Homo sapiens: one gene and its partner. The protein of the gene in region 2 interacts with the protein of the main gene of each other region in a pairwise test. Each region holds a gene or a part of one and is shown on either strand. Other genes may lie near its edges.

The links.
Region 1: the proteins of STMN4 (region 2) and CMTM3 interact in binary tests that used the Homo sapiens proteins (3 or more experiments, as listed by UniProt).

The regions. Positions count from the first base shown.
Region 1 is NC_000016.10:66,607,330-66,615,114, reverse strand, and holds the end of CMTM3 (CKLF-like MARVEL transmembrane domain-containing protein 3), read right to left. Parts: intron 6,807-7,785; coding exon 6,651-6,806; intron 5,681-6,650; coding exon 5,585-5,680; intron 5,357-5,584; coding exon of another isoform or gene 5,258-5,356; exon of another isoform or gene 5,233-5,257; coding exon 5,112-5,232; intron 2,507-5,111; coding exon 2,478-2,506; 3' UTR 1,228-2,477; downstream 1-1,227.
Region 2 is NC_000008.11:27,254,984-27,263,521, forward strand, and holds the start of STMN4 (stathmin-4), read right to left. Parts: upstream 3,422-8,538; 5' UTR 3,368-3,421; intron 1-3,367. UniProt on the Homo sapiens protein: Exhibits microtubule-destabilizing activity.

The DNA of each region.
Region 1 (7,785 bases), on a different chromosome or scaffold from region 2:
GATGCCCGTTGGGCAAACTTAGGTTTATGTGTTTGGTTTTTCAGCTGACGTGGAAGCCCTGGGTGGGCGTCCCCTGGCTGGCCTGGCTTTTGGGTTCAAGTCTGTATGTATGGAGTGGGTTGGGGCCCCAAAGCTTTGCTGCTATTGATTTGTCCCCGACAGCAGGCAAAGCCTCACATTGCCCTCAATTTTCCCCCTTTCATTTGAAGGACCAGTTTTTCATGGTACTTGTCTTGATCTTTTTCATAGTGTTCAAATCTGTATTTTTGTATGTAGAGGGAAATAATTTTCTCAACACTAATCGTTAATAACTATTGTATTAAATTGTCATGAAGGAACTTGTTTAATAAATGGACGTGTAAGGATGTCGTTGTCTCTCCTCACTCTGAGTGGCCTCCTCTGCCCCTTAAACGTTACGGATCCAGTTCCTGAAATAGGGCTGCTGTGTGGAGGTTGAACAGAGCCACGATCCTCAGGGTGGAACAAGGCCTCTGTGACACCAGCTTTGCCGCTTTGCCAGGGCTTACAAGGTGGAATGTAAATTCCACCAGGGGCCTCTCCACTCCTGCACACCCAGCTTTCTTACCCATTTTCAGCACATGTGGTGTGTGACAGTTTGGGTGGAATGTCTTGTCTTTTCCCATCAGCCTGGATAAGAATGCGGACCCGGGTCCTCCAGGGCTGTAGTCCTCTGGGCTGTTATGCAACCAGCTTCCAAACCAGGAGAGCCCCAGGGTTCCGGCTGCCTGAGGCTGCCGTGAGACACTATCCTGATGTGTAAGTGAGAGGGCCCTGGGCCAGTTACCCGACCTCTGTCTCAGTTTCTTTGTTTATAAAACAGGGTAGTGTGAGAACTAGAGCAGGGGTCCCCAACCCCTGGGCAGTGGACTGGTACCATGGGACCTGTTAGGAGCCAGGCTGCACAGCAGGAGGTGGGTGGCAAGCAACGGCATTACCGCCTGAGCTCTGCCTCCTGTCAGATTGGCAGTGGGATTAGGTTCTCATAGGAATGCGAATCCTATTGTAAACTGTGCATGCTACGGATCTAGGTTGTGTGCTCCTTATGAGAATCTAATGCCTGATGATCTGAGATAGAACAGTCTCATCCTGAAACCATCCCCTCCCACCCTCACCCCAACCCACCCGCCAACCCCCAGTCCATGGAAAAACTGTCTTCCACGAAACTGGTCCCTGGTGCCAAAAAGGTTAGGGAAATAAAGGATTAAATGGTAGTCAGATTTCACGTGTATTTTTGCTAAAACTGAAAGCTGTCAGGATCCACATTGGTGTTACCAGTTTGTACTGAAGCCTGATACAATACCCAACAGTATTGCTCTGGTTTTTTCAAGCACACACTCCAAGCAAGTGGTCAGTCTGGCTTAATTCATTATGGCTTTTTTTCAGGGTAAGAGATTCACACGCAAGAGAATAAGGCTACAAATGCTCCAAACATGGGTCCAGAACTCTGGCTCTTTTGTGAGGCCTAGAGTCACAGAAAATGCCATCTGTTAAGAAGCTGCTTTTGCATAAAAAAATATAAAAAGTTACAAAATTCCATCAAAGACAGATACACAGTATAAATCGTTAGGTGAACACAGAAGGCTGGTCTCATCTCCTGCAGTGGCCCATAGACCTGCCCTGAGGTCTGGAAGTTCACTGTCCTGAGGGTCCAGGAACTCCTGCCTGCTGGCTGGGCTCTAGGAAGAAGGAGGGTTTGGCTGGGCCCGCCCAGCTCCCCATGACACTGTCACTGTGATGCCACTGTTGTACCCTCTGTCTTCTGGACCAGTCAGTCTATGAGCTCTTCTTTGAAACAGTCTTAGACCCAGAATGGTCATCTCACCCCCAGAAGACATGGTTTCCAAGGGTGGGAGGTGTTAGTTATGGGTGCCGAGCCCCACTTCCTGGGCGACAAGGCAAAGGTCAATTTCTCCCTGCTTCAAGAATGAAGAGGGAACTGGTGCTCCTTGAACCAAAGATTCTTGGAAGGGTCATTGTCACCAAAGTGGCTGGTGTGGGCAGGAGCACCAAGTGCAGACAAACCCACCGGGGCCTGGCGGGGCAGCCCTGTCATGGTTTCTGTCTTTGTTCCTGTTAGTGAAACAGAAGACCCCCGACCCCCGCCACCTAGCAGCATGGAACACCTGCTGCCCAGATACAGACAAGGCTCTGCTTTGTCTCCTTGTGCTGGTTTTTGGCAGAGACGTTAAAGGGCTGAAGGCCTGTGGGACAGAAATGGGGAGAAGGAGTGGGATACCCAAGATGCCCTCATACGCAGCGTGGTCAACAGTGCTGAGCTGAGGGGCAAGCCTGGTAGGCTGGGCTCAGGCAGAACCTGAGGCTGTAGGGGGCCTGCTGTGTCCGCAGCCCCCTCTGCAACTCAGAAGTCCAGGCCTCCGCTCCAACGCCAGCGACCCCTGTGAGGCGCAGGGGTGGAGGCCTGTGTGGCTCAGGTTGCCAAGGCACCCGCCAGGCCTTCAGTCAGAGTCCGAGTCGGAATTCTCTTCTGAAAGGAAAGCAGAGAGGATGCTTGGCAGGAGGCTCAGGGCAGCGGTGCCTGGGAACGGTCTCTGGGGAAGCACAGCTGGGTTGCTGGCAGGAGCCTGGGTGCAGGCCTCCTGCAGCTGACTCTACCGTTCCCAGTGATCGCTGGCATCAGGGCAGGCCGCGGGCCTGAGGCCCTCCACAGGCAGCAGCCACTTTCTCTCTCTCTTTTTTTTTTGTTGTTGTTTTTTGTCTTTGAGACAGAGTCTTGCTCATCACCCAGGCTGGAGTGCAATGGCGGGATCTCGACTCACTGCAACTTCCTCCCTCCCGAGTAGCTGGGATTATAAGCGTGTGCCACCACACCTGGCTAATTTTTGTACTTTTAGTAGAGATGGGCTTTCACCAGGCTGGTCTTGAACTCCTGACCTCAGGTGATCTACCCACCTCAGCCTCCCAAAGTGCTGGGGTAACAGGCGTGAGCCACCGTGCCCGGCCGCAGAAGCCACTTGCACCTCCAGGGTGTGGGTGCGGGTGCAGGTGGGGGTGTTTCCACCCCAAGACTGAAGCCCAGGTGCCCCTTCCTCAGGCCCAGCCCCTCCGGAGTCTCCCTGGGCTTTTCTCAGCTGGGTGGGTCAGGGCTGTACCTCTGCATTCCAGCTCTACCCCCACCCCCAGGTTCAGCAGGACAAGGTGAGGACAGCTATTTTCTTGTCCCCCAAACTAAAATATACTGGAAAATCAGCAAGCCTCTTTTTAGCCATTTTATATCTTCAATCCCCCTCCCCCAATCCTTGTTTAATATTGTAATCAGAAACAATTTTATAATGGTAAGGGCCTGCCTATGAGGTGTACCTCGAGGGTTCCTGAAATCCCAGTTCTGTCTCGGAGCTCTGTAGAGCCTTCTGGAACCTCCACCCCAGAAGGAAAAGCACCAGAGTCACTAACCCCCAACCCCACCCCAGTGCTGGTTGCTACTTCCTGATGCTCATCCCCTCCCTGGCCAGCCTCTGTCTCTCAGAACCCCAGTCAGTCCCCATGAGCTGTCGCTGGCTCATGGCTGGGCTCAGGGCTGGGGTGTGGGCAGCCTAGTCCCTAAACCCCAGCTCTGTCCCTCACTCCGGTTCCTGGGCTGCACTCGTCAGATTTTGTGGGTTTTGCTATATTCAATTTTTTCCCCCCGAGATGGAGTCTCACTCTGTCGCCCAGGCTGGAGTGCGATGTCTTGATCTCAGGTCACTGCAACCTCTGCCTCCCATAGGTGATTCTCCTGCCTCAGCCTCCCAAGTAGCTGGGATTACAGGCGGGCACCACCATGCCTGGCTGATTTTTGTATTTTTAGTAGAGATGGGGTTTCACCGTGTTGGCCAGGCTGGTCTCAAACTCCTGACCTCAAGTGATCCACCCGTCTCGGCCTCCCAAAGTGTTGAGATTACAGGCGTGAGCCACTGTGCCTGGCTGCTATATTCAATTCTAACATATAAGTCAAGAATAATTTTACAGCAAAATAATTGTTACATATGTGAAACTCTCCAAATAGTAAAACAAAAAAAACAAAATAAAACCACCCAAGTTTCCACTGACGTTTACTAATTGGTCCCTGGGCTGGTTGTCTGGGATCACTTGCTGCGGGCAACTGGGAGCAGGTTGCAGAGCCTGAGGAAACCGCCTGGGAGCTCTAACCTAATATTTGCCAAGGGACGGGATGGGATGAGTGGCATTCATTTTCAGCAGAAGGACGGTTTCTGGGATTCACAAATCCCCATGGCCCCAGCACCTGGCTGTTAGGAAACCAGTGGCTCTTAAGCCTAACCTACTGGTCCTGCCTAGGGAAGATCCCAACCACAGGGTGGGGCCTGCAGGCCCTTCCAGAGCTGCCCTTGTCTACCTGTCCAGCCACAGGCACTGCCAGCACAGGGGCACATCCGCCTGGTCCAGAGAAGCATCTCCCCAGGCAGAAGCGCCTGCTGTCTCTGCTCTCAGCCTTCTTCCCTACACCGGCCTGGTCTCTTCTGCCTGCACACTCCTCTACTGCCATCTGTCAGTACCCAGCTCTAGTGTCCCCTCCAGAGCCTCGGGCCAGCTGACACCCAGCGTGGGCCTGCTTTCAGCTACTGTATCCCTCCCTCTATCGGCTCCTGTTTTACTGTCGTCATTGCTGCCCCATCTGGCCCCTCCCCTGGTACGGGACACATCATCTGTCCCTTGCCACGGTTTCTGGGTCTGACTCCTTTCTGGGCTCTGAGCTTCCCAGGACAGGCCTGGATGGGTAAGACAGCAGAGGGGCTGGGTTTGGGGGATGGCCACTCTGGATCCCAGGTGGACAGGTGCCCGAGAGTGACTGGCTGCCCAGGGGGGTCGTCCAGGGAGACTTGCCGGCCTGGCCTGAGGCTCAGCCATGCCCACTGCTTGCCCCTCCTAGAAAGGCTGGGGTGAGGGTGCACGAGGCGAATGGGACTGGCTTTGGATCAGTGCTGCATGAGGGTAGGTGAGAATGGGCTGTGAAAACACTTCCTGCCATGGGGAGAGAGGAAATGATCCCACCCCAGCCTCAAACTAGCTGGCATCCCCGAGGGAGGGCAGGCCCCTGTTGCAGCACTGCTGGGGTGATCAGGGCAGCCGCTTACCTTCTGTCTTGTGGGCTGTGGTCTCATCTGCAGAGTCCCCTTGTTTGAGGAATTTGGCCACGTCGTTAAAGATCAGGTAGAAATCAGTTGCAAACACGATGGTAGCAAAGAAGCCAAACACCTGTGGACAGGGTGGATGGGATGCATCACAGGGCTGACTCCCTGCTCCGGGAGGCTGCTGCCCCAGCCTCACGGCCCATTTCAGATCTGCTTGGACAAACAGCCCGAGTGTCAGGCACAGACCCCTGTGAGTAACGGAAGTGGGAAAATGAGCTGTGAACTTGGTTTGACAAACAGCCTTTCAAAACCCCGGGTAGAGTCAGTCTTTAATGAGAGGACTTTGGAATCATCATCGGGACCCACATGAGACCCCAGGGGGGCCCCAGCAGGGAAAGGCTCTGCCCCAGGTCCCACCCTAAATGAGGGGCTAGAGGGGCATCTGCAGTTTCCAGAGGGGTGGGGCGGCTGCTCACCCCAGCGGCTTTGGAAGCCCCATCCGAGTACTTGGCGATGGCCGTGATGGAGATAGCAAAGTAGATGAGGGCCGCGGTGACACAGCGCAGGAAGTCCTGGGGAGAGAGGGGCATGCTGCCCTGAGCCCCTGGAGCTGAGCACAGCATGGGGAGGAGGCCTGGCAGCCTGGTCGTGTTCCCAGCCCCAGGCCTAGCACCTGAGGGCTCCTATCCCATCCTGGCCCCACCCACATGCCTAGGCCCTTGTCCCACCCCCGAGGTGCCTCTGCTGCCTTGCCAGCAGCTGACACTGCCCTATCCCGGGTCCAGCGGGGCTGCTGTCCTAAGCTCTGGGCAAAAAACTGTGTGGATCAGGGTGCAGCCTGCCCTGCGATGCGGTGGAAGCAGAAGTTGGAAACACCCCCACCTGCTCCCTTCCCGCTCTCCATTGGGGAGATCTGGCTCTGGGCCTCGGCTTTGTCACACTCTTGTGGCCGATCCATTCATGGACCACAGTTTCTGCTTATCCGTCCCTAAGATGGGGACACAGAGGGTGCAGCCCTCCTGAGGCAGCAGATGCTGGATATGAAGTCAAGAGACAAGGGTTCAAGTTGAGCCTTTGCTGCCCTTTCTCTAGGACACATTTCATTCAGCGAGGTCCACTGGGGTCTGGGCCCTCACAGGTGATAAAACGAGGTCAGGGTTGCCGATGGCTGAAGTCTGGGTAAGCCCTGCAAGTCCTCAGTTAACCTGTCCTGCCCACGTGGAAATGGCTTGAATTCCTGTGGCGGCAGCTCATTCCTGTAGGCCCGGTGGGGAGCACCGGCGCCACCTGGTGGCCAGAGACCCCTCTCCGGGTTCCCTGCCTCACAGACCTGCTCTAGAGGCACCACAGCCCACTTGAGGTCACAGGGCTGCTGAGTAGTGGAGCTGGGATGATCTGAAGCTGGGTCTCTCCATCCAGTTCTAACCAACTGCAAACTCCAGCACACTAGAGAAAGGATAAGGGCCCAAGTGCACGACTCTGGACTCCTCATCTGGCCACTTTGTGCAGGGCACCCCTCCCTCCTGGGGCCCCTGTCCTCACCATCATGGGCCAGCACAAGCCCTGCCACTTGTCATTCAGCTGCATGGCATCAGCAAAGAGGAAGTACAAGGCCAGCAGGAACTCCAGCAGAGGCGCTGTGAGGAAGGCAGATGCTGAGGACGCCACATAGCAGATAAAAGTGATGAATGAGAGACCCTGCGGGGAAGGAGTTTGAGGTGAAGTCAGAGCCTTTTCATGTTCCTTGTCCAGTGCTCCTCTGAGCCAGGCCCTGTGGTCAGGATAGAGGAGGTTCCAGCAGGGGAAGCCAACTGCTCACAGTCCCGCAGCTGGGAAGTGGCAGAGCCAGATTAGAATCCCAGGCCAAGCACAGTGGCTCACACCTGTAATCCTAGCACTTTGAGAGGCCCAGGCAGGTGGATTGCTTGAGCCCAGAAATTTGACCCCAGCTTGGGCAACATGGCAAAACCTCATCTCGGCAAAATATACAAAAATTAGCCGGGCATGGTGGTGTGTGCCTGAAATCCCAGCTACTTGGGAGGCTGAGGTGGGAGGATCACCTGAGCCCGGGGAGGTCGAGGCTGCAGTGAGCTGTGATCAGGCCACTGCACTCCATCCTGGGTGAGAGAGAGAGAGACCCTGTCCGCACCCGCCCCTACAAAAAAAAAAAACCCAGCATGGCCCAGGCTCACACCTATGCTGCCTCCCAGTCCTGGGCATGGCCCTGAGTCCTCACCTTACCCCACCCCAGCTCCCTGACAGGACCTAGTCAGAAAGCCCCAGCCTTCCAAGCACATGCACTCCACTCAGTGCCCTGCGGAGGGAAATCAAAGCGAGGCAGGAACCAGTTTCCAAAAAGTAACACCCAACACCAAAGACGTGTGCTCGTCACTGAATGTAGATTTCACCTTGAAAAGAAAAAACCTTGAACCTTAATGATATGCGTCCTGAAGTGTTCAGAGTTGAAATGTCCTGATGTCTGCAATTTATTTTGTGTTAAAAGATAAAATGCCTTGATGGACAGATAGATAAAGCAAAAAAATCTTTTGGAGTTTTAATGTATTTGCAAATTTTCATAATGATAAGAAAGGAACATCTAACAGAGGGTGCGTTGGCACTGACACCTCAGGCCCTGCTGCCTTATTCATACAGGGCCAGCTGTGAAAGGTGGGGCCAG
Region 2 (8,538 bases):
CATGCATATGTAGGTGGGAAGGGCGCAGGTGTGCATGTATTCATTTGTCTTCCTAGAGGGACTAGAGATGTAAAACTCTGAAAAAAAAAACAATTTTTAAATGGCAGGGAAGAATTTTTGGTATCCATCCCTCTCTAAAGAAAAACAGAAAAAGCAACCTTTCCCAGGCTGTCACATCTCTAAATATAGCAAATGCTAATTTAATAAGCAAATCGAATTATACATGATGTATGTTTATTTCTCAAGCTTAAAAAAAATGGATTTGTTCCCTGAGTGGCGTTACGAAAATTACACTTTACATGTTGTATAATTCCCCAAAATTTCTATCTCTCCTCCCACAAAAGCAGTTTCATTTCTCCCCATCTGTGTCTTCAAAATCTCCGGGAACTCTATGTTTCCAAATGAGAATCTCCAGGTAAGTATGAAATAATATAAAGATATCAGAGGGGGCAGGGGAGACAGTCTGAAGCATTCTTGAAAAATTAAGCCTTTCTTTGATTATGATCTTGATACTTAAATATCCTATTATTTAAAAGCAAGAACACAAAATATCTGAATTTTTCCAATCCGTCTATACAGTTGGTTTAATATAGACACAATTCTCCTCCTTTCTTTATCTCTCTCTTACCTTCCTAATTTATTTGCCCCATGTTCCTTTTTCCTGCTCAAATACCCTATTCTCTGAACCTCAGTTTGTCAATCTTTGTTGCTCTATTTTAAAAGTTATCAATCAGCCCACATCCCCCTACAGGAAAAATGTGGTTAAAAATGGCCTAGTCCAGTAAAAGAAGATAGCCACTTGGAATTTGGGTTTCTTTTATTGAACCAAAGTGAAATCTAGCTATTAAGCAGCCATCCAAGCAAAAATGCAGGACACTTTCACCGTCCCTCCACCTCTAGTCGACAACCTGGCCACTATGGACAATATGAGACCAAACTTCTCCGTCTTTGATAGGTCCTTTAGAATGAAGTAACTCACTAAAGAAGGACAGCTTCCCATAAAAAAAAATATTTAGATTTAATTACAACTTAAAGGCACTTATTTTTTACTTGGGAATAGGGACACACAGTGTACAACATGGATGAGCCTTGAGGACATTACACTCAGCGAAATAAGCCAATCATAAAAAGACAAGTACTGTATGATTCCACTTATCTGAGGTACCTAGAGGAGTTAAATTTATAGAGAAAGAATGTAGGATGGGATTTTCCAGGGGCTGGGGCACAGGAGAATGGGAAGTTAGTGTCTAATGGGTATGGAGTTTCAGTTTTGCCAAATGAAAAGAGTTCTGAAGATTGCATGCACAGCAATGTAAATCTTAATACTACTGATTTGTACACTTAAAAATAGAATGGCAAATTTTATGTTATGTGTATTTACCGCAGTTAAAAATTAAAAAAAAAAGGTTGACTATCTATTGGGAGTTTTTCATAGGCTTGTAGTCTTAGGGTTAGGAGAGGTAATTAGAAGTCACTTAGCCTAATGTTTCTCAAACTTTTTTGACTGAAGCTCACAAAAGGTGCTACATTTTATATTATGATCCAGTATGTATTTGTCATGATATGGACATATACACACATATATGATTACAGATACAGACATATATGTACATTTGTACACACAAATATACACATAACTGATATGTAACTAAAGACAGCATAGGAAGCATTAATTATCCCATTACATGAGATGTGCTCTAATTATTTTCTACTCTTATTCCATTTTATTAAAACAAAATACCATTTACAATCCATAAGTTGATTTCACAATGTACTAATGGGTCTCAGCCTTCAGTTAAAACACTAACCTAGACCAATCCCTAACATAATGCAAAAATCTCCTCTAAAGCCTCCCTGCTGGGTGGCCATCCAACTTCTGCTTGAATGCCTTCAGTGACAGGGAACTCACTCCCTACAGGGCAGCATGCTCTATGGTAGTCCCATCTAGCACTTGCAGATCCTGCTCACTCCAGAGCTGTTCCAGGAGTGGCCTGGGTGGAGCTGAGAATGCCAGGAGGGCTGGGACCAGCTGACAGGTGCTCAGTGGTTTCCAAGAGGGGTGAAAGTACAGCTCCTAGCAGCAAAGCGGAGGGTTGGGGTGAGCCAGAGACTAGGGCAGCATTGCTGGGAGACTCTGGCTTCCTTCTGTGGAGCTGCAGATCAGACCTTTTCCCCTCTGCCTTCTCACTGCTCCAGCACTATGATTATTTCCTCATCTGAAGGATGATCTCATTCCCCTAGCACCCGCCTGTGGGAGAGGTTTCCTCCCCCTGGGAGGCGGGGGCTCAGCCTCAGGTGGAGACAGATTCCCTCATATTCCCTCTCAACCTCCCACCCATCCCTCGAGCCTCAGCAGGCCACCTCTGGCCATCCCACCTTGTATTCTCTTGGTCTTAAGACAGGGGGTATCCCTTCCCAGGGCATTCAGATAAGGGTGCCTGAACATTCCTGACCTCTCCCTCCGACCCCCATACAAACACACACACACACACACACACACACACACACACACACACACAGCATTCTGGAGACCTGCTCATGTTCAGGACAACAAGACTCCACCACACCTGATTGTGTCTTCCTGGGAGAAATAAAACAAAGACAGCACCGCCACGTGGGGACAGCTGACTGCTGGACATCAAAACCCTGGGTCCCAGGATGAGAAATGAATGATGCCTAAACTCCTGGCAAGTGTGGTGGGCTGAATAAGGAGGGGGACTGGCCAGGGCCCCAGTCAAGGACCAGGGCGTGGCAGTTCTGGGTGTCTGCAGTTTTCAGCTTTGGAGCCAGCCACCTCTGGCCAGGTAGGATTAGGCTGACCTCAGGGTGGGGCGGGGCCAAGAGGAGGTGATGATCTCATTGCATCCTTAGAACCAAGAGAAAAAAGTAACCCGTGCATAGAGCCGAAGGAAAAGATGTGTGATCAAAATGGGAATGGGAGACAAGAAAAGCTGTGTCTGAGGAAGAAAAGGTAAAAACACAGGAGAGCTTCCCACTTGAAAGGGATCTTCAGGTCACAGCCAGCTGCAGGGGCAGCCAGACTCAGCACAAAACCTTTCTCCTTAAGCAACAAAACATTTTTATGCAGAAATAGCTCACCATAGCATCTGACAATTCCCACCCATCCTGCCTCTCCTGAGCTCTGGAATAAAAGTGGCACCCGGAGCCCACCCTCACCCCTTGGCCGAGCGCCATTCTTTCTGCCTCACCCCCTTTCCCCCAAGATCTGACAAAGTTTAAATGATTGAGTAGAACCAAAGGTGACACAATAGGTGCTAGGCCCCTCGCTTCTCCCCACTGTAGCTGCTGTCTTGTTTTTTCTTTTGCCTGAAAAGCCTCAAATTAGTTGCATTTTATTTCTACTTACGTGCAGTCCAGTTAGAAGCGAGCTGCTCTCTTCCTCACTCCCTCAATTAGTGGTACCCTGGGCTTCTCTCAACATCAGCACCACTGCTCGCTCTTGCCATGACATCACCTCCAAGCTCTGTGATTGGCCAGCAGTGGGTTGCTTGGCAATTGGACAGTCTCCTCTGGTGGAGCAGGGATTGCCTGAGTGAGTAACTCTTAGCAGGCCAGGGAGTGAAAGATGATGTCAGACAAAGAGCCTGCTTTCTCTGCTGCCTGTGGAGCTGGAGAACCAGAGGGGTGAGGGCGGAGAGGAAGAAAGAAAGAGGGAGTGGTACAGAGAAGGTTGGGGAGAAGCCACAGCTTGCGAGCTGGGGGTATAATGAATGATTTCCAGGATCTTTAGGTCCTTTAAATTTGGGGGTGAGAGAATATGGAATCCAGAGAAGAAATAAAAAAGAACAGATGAACCCTAAAAATAGCTTCCTGGAGGGCTTGGTGCCTGTTTCCAGCTCTGTCAGAAGGGCTGGTGGGTTTGAACGATGACTCAGAAGGCGGGGGGTTGCGGGGACTGCAAAAACCCCAGGATTGGGAGCTGATGAGGGCCCTGCACTGGAGTCTCTGGAGAATAAGGCTTCCCTCTGGCCACCTTTGCAAAGGTATCAGCCACATCTCTGCTGACACTAGTGGGTCCTCACTGCCCCTCCCATCCAGCCCTCCTGGGCCTTCCAGAGGGAGCCACAGGTAGGAAGATGGACTGGTCATTACACTGGTGATTCCCAAATATGGTGGATTTTTTAAAATTTTCAGTAAGTTTTTGGGAAACAGGTGGTGTTTGGTTACATGAATAAGTTCTTTAGTGGTGATTTCTGAGATTTTGGTGCACCATCACCCGAGCAGTGTACGCTGTCCCCAGTGAGTAGTCTTTTATCCCTCACTCTCCTCCCACTCTTTCCCCCAAGTCTCCTAAGTCCCTTGTATCATTCTTATGCCTTCGCGCCCTCCTAGCTTAGCTCCCACTTATGAGTGAGAACATATGATGTTTGGTTTTCCATTCCTGAGTTACTTCACTTAGAATAATGGTCTCCAATTCCACCCAGGTTGCTGCAAATGCCATTATTTCATTGCTTTTTATGGCTGAGTAGTATTCCACGGTGTGTGTGTGTGTGTGTGTGTGTGTGTGTGTGTGTGTGTGTATTACATTTTCTTTATCCACTTGTTAATTGGTGGGCATTTGGGCTGGTTCTATATTTTTGCAATTGCGAATCATGCTGCTATAAGCATGCATGTGCAAGTATCTTTTTTGTACAATAACTTCTTTTTCTCTGGGTAGATACCCAGGAGTAGGATTGGTGGATCAAATGGTAGATTTACTTTTAGTTCTTTAAAAATTTTTCACACTGTTTTCCATAGTGACTGTACTAGTTTACATTTCCATATGGTGGAATCTTGAGGGGGGGTGACGGGTCAGCGATGGTGGCTTCTGTAGTTCCCTCAGGGAATGAGGGAGCCACTAACATAACCTTCACAGGCTGCTGCCCTCAGCCAGTGAGCTGGAGAGGGCAGGGTGAGGCAGGAGAGGAGCCAGGCAGCTGTGGAGCGAGACCCCCTCCTCCAGAACACCTCTCCAGATTAAATCCCCCCAAGATGTGTCCATCATCCCCACATTCCACCGTCCAGCCTTGCCTCATGTGTTCTTCTTGGTGGGGAGGGGTAATTTTTTTTCTTTTTTTTTTGAGACAGAGTCTCGCTCTGTCACCCAGGGTGGAGTGCAATGGCGTGATCTCGGCTCACTGCAACCTCCACCTCCCGAATTCAAGAGATTCTCCCGCCTCAGCCTCCTGAGTCACTGGAACTACAGGCACGCACCACCACACCTGGCTAATTTTTGTATTTTTAGTAGAGATGGGGTTTCACCATATTGGTCAGTCTGGACTTGAACTCCTGACCTCGTGATCTGCCTGCCTCAGCCTCCCAAAGTGCTGGGATTATAGGCATGAGCCACCACGCCCAGCCGGGGAGGGGTAATTTTATTGAGGCTGAACATGTCCAACATAACGCTCACCATTTTCACTATTTTGAAGTGTATAGCTCACTGGCCTCAAGTGCACACGCATTGCTGTGTAGCCATCACAGCTTTCCATCTCCAGAACTTTGGCATGTTCCCCAATATTCATATGTAACCAGTAAGCAATAACACTCCTTTCCAGCTAACCCCAAACTACTTTCTGTCTCTATGAATTTGCCTATTCTAGGCACCTCGTATCAGTGAAATCAAATAGTATTGTCCTTTTGTATCTGGCTTCATTCTCTTGGCATGTCTTCAAGGAGCATCCATGTTGTAGCATGTGTGATAATTCCATCACCTTGCTCCTCCCTCCTTTTTTTTTTTTTTTTTTTTTTACAAAGTCTTGCTTTGTCATTGAGGCTGGAGTGCAGTGATGTGATCATGGCTTACTGCAACCTCTGCCTCCCAGACTCAAGTGATACTCCCACCTCAGCCTCCCCAGTAGCTGGGACTACAGGCATGTGCCACCACACCCAGCTAATTTTTTATAGAATCAGGTTTTCACCATGTTGCCCAGGCTGGTCTCAAACTCCTGGGCTCCCACCTGCCTTGGCCTCCCAAAGTGCTGGGATTATAGGCATGAACCACCACGCCTGGCACCTCACCCTATTTTAGGAGGGTTTGTTCACCCTCTACCACCAAACCCCTATTGACTGAGAACACGAATAATGACAAAAGTTGCCTTGAATTCAGCCCATGCTTTGAAGTTATTATTTTTAAACTACAGTAGCATCAATGAGCATTTGAAAATCATAGTTAATGCATGGATGTCACATGTTCACCCTGCAGACTGTGCTGGGGATTAAGTAGATTCTCAAGCCCTGGCATGAACCCCTGACCTGCACCCCACTGCCAGGACCTGCAAGCTGGCATCTCACCACAGCACCCCGTGTGGTTCTCCAGGAGGCCCCATGTAGACACACATCTCCAAGCCCCCACTTCACATCCAGAGGGGAGGGCTCCAGTTAGGCTGCCAGCCCCTGGCCAAGCGGTGGCCAGGATGAGGAATGAGCCCTGACAGCCTTTGGGGTTTTCAAAGCACACCAGAGCTGAATCTATGGTGTAATCCTTTCAGCAGGGCTGCAAGGACGGCAGGACGAACACTGTGCTGTTTGACATTCAGTGAGTATCACTGAACAACACACTTATCATTCATGCCACATGCCACCAACCCAGGACCCTCAGCCATCAAGCTGAGCCTTTTCAGTGGGAATCAGGACAACTAAGGATATCAGAAAGTCATTCCCTCAACATGTGGAGACAGGAGAGGCCACACTGCATACCAGGCTGGAATTTGGAGTCCAAGCAAACCCCAAATGCATGGCTATCCTAGCTGTGAAGGGGGCCTCTCTGTCCTCCCCTAGTATCTTCCCTCCCAGCCCTGAGAAGTCTGGAACTCCACAAATCTGCTGGCTCTGGAAAGTGAGGGATGGGGAGAGAAGGCAGTAGGTTGCCATGGTGATGGCAGCCAATCAGAGATCCTCTGCTGCTAGGGGAGGAGCAAGTTCGGTCTGAGTCCCCCTCACTGACTGTGAAGGAGGGTGGAGCTGGAACAGGGGGAGAAAGAGACAGGACATCACTGCCTGACAGCAGAGACCAAGGTCGGGGAGAAGGGTCATGGGGAGGGTGGCTCTATTTCTAGGATTACCTAGTTTCCATTTGGTACTAGGTTGTGATGGTTACACACACACACACACACACACACTCAGTACATCTCACAACTGCCCTGTGAGAAAGGGATTACCCACCCCATTTATAAAAGAAACAGACTCCAATAGGAAAGGTAACCTCAAACAGCCTACCTGTTATGCAGCGAGGCCTGGATTTGAACTCTGGGGAACGGGATGCGGGAGACACTGGCGAGAGAGTGAGTAAGGTAAGCAGGGTAGAGCCACGGCCCCAAAGACCTACTGGGTGGGAGAGTCCCTGGGACTTCCCTGAGATGGCATAAAGCAATATGTTGATAAAACAAGAAACACAGAAATGGTAAGAAAATGTACCAAACACCAAGTCCATAGAACAAAGGGCGAGGAGAGACCAAAATCAGAAAAGAAATCAGCAAGGTCAAAACTAGGAGGCTCAGAAGGACAGGATGGCGATCAGGGAGCAGGTGGAGGGGAAGGCGAGGTGGGCGCTCTGTTCCTCACACCGCAATATGGAAAGCCCCTGTGAGCCTTGTTGAGAAATGTGGGCTGGCCCTGGACCTGCCAAGTCAACTTTGGGTTAGACCTGTTGCTTGTGATCAATCTACCCAAATGCTGGACTTTAGCCAAAGGGGCATGGGGCCCACAACGCCCCTCTGCAGACACCACCTCTCACAGCCCAAGTTGCACTACAGCAACAATACTAGGATGGAGTGTGTGTGGCCATTCCCTGAATCCCCACGCATTGCCTGGCTGCACCATGCGGACCCGATTCCTATATCTCTGCCCAGGAATCCCAGGGCAGCCACTGCTTGGTGACTTGACTCACCATATAATAACTCACACTCACAGCCTCTCAGGCACAAAGGAAGGGGCCCCTGCCCTTCTCAGAGGTAGTTCTATCATAGGACCAGCTGGGAAGTCACCCTGGGGACCCTCATGGAGCCTGGGATCTCTTCCCAACCCTCAGAAAAAGTGGACCTAGTCTCACATGGGAATTCAGAATATCTAATCCATACATGCATGTCTCTTCCACTCACACCAATGTGGTTTGTAAAAACTATAGAACATCAATGGGAATTTATCAATGGGAAATTGCAGTTTGTGGGATTTTCTTCTGTAGAATTTGTTGAATTGAACATTATCAGTTATTGACTTGAAACAAGTAAAAACATGTTTGCACTATGTCATTTTAAAAATGTGAACTCTTATTTCACCTGAAGAGTGGCTGTCCTGACTCACATGCTCTGGAGTCACTAGTGGCTTAGATTTTCCTTCAACAAATTAAAACACAAATCAATTCAATCGATTTGAATCCAAGCAAAGCTGGATTGCTAGAGCTGTTTGTTTATGTCCCTGATTAGATTTGTTAACTAAATTGTAATGGTGGTTAATATTTATAACCACAACATATGATGTTTATAAAAGCAATATTTATCAAGTGAGCTAAAACCTGTAAATCACTTAGAACATTGCCTGGCA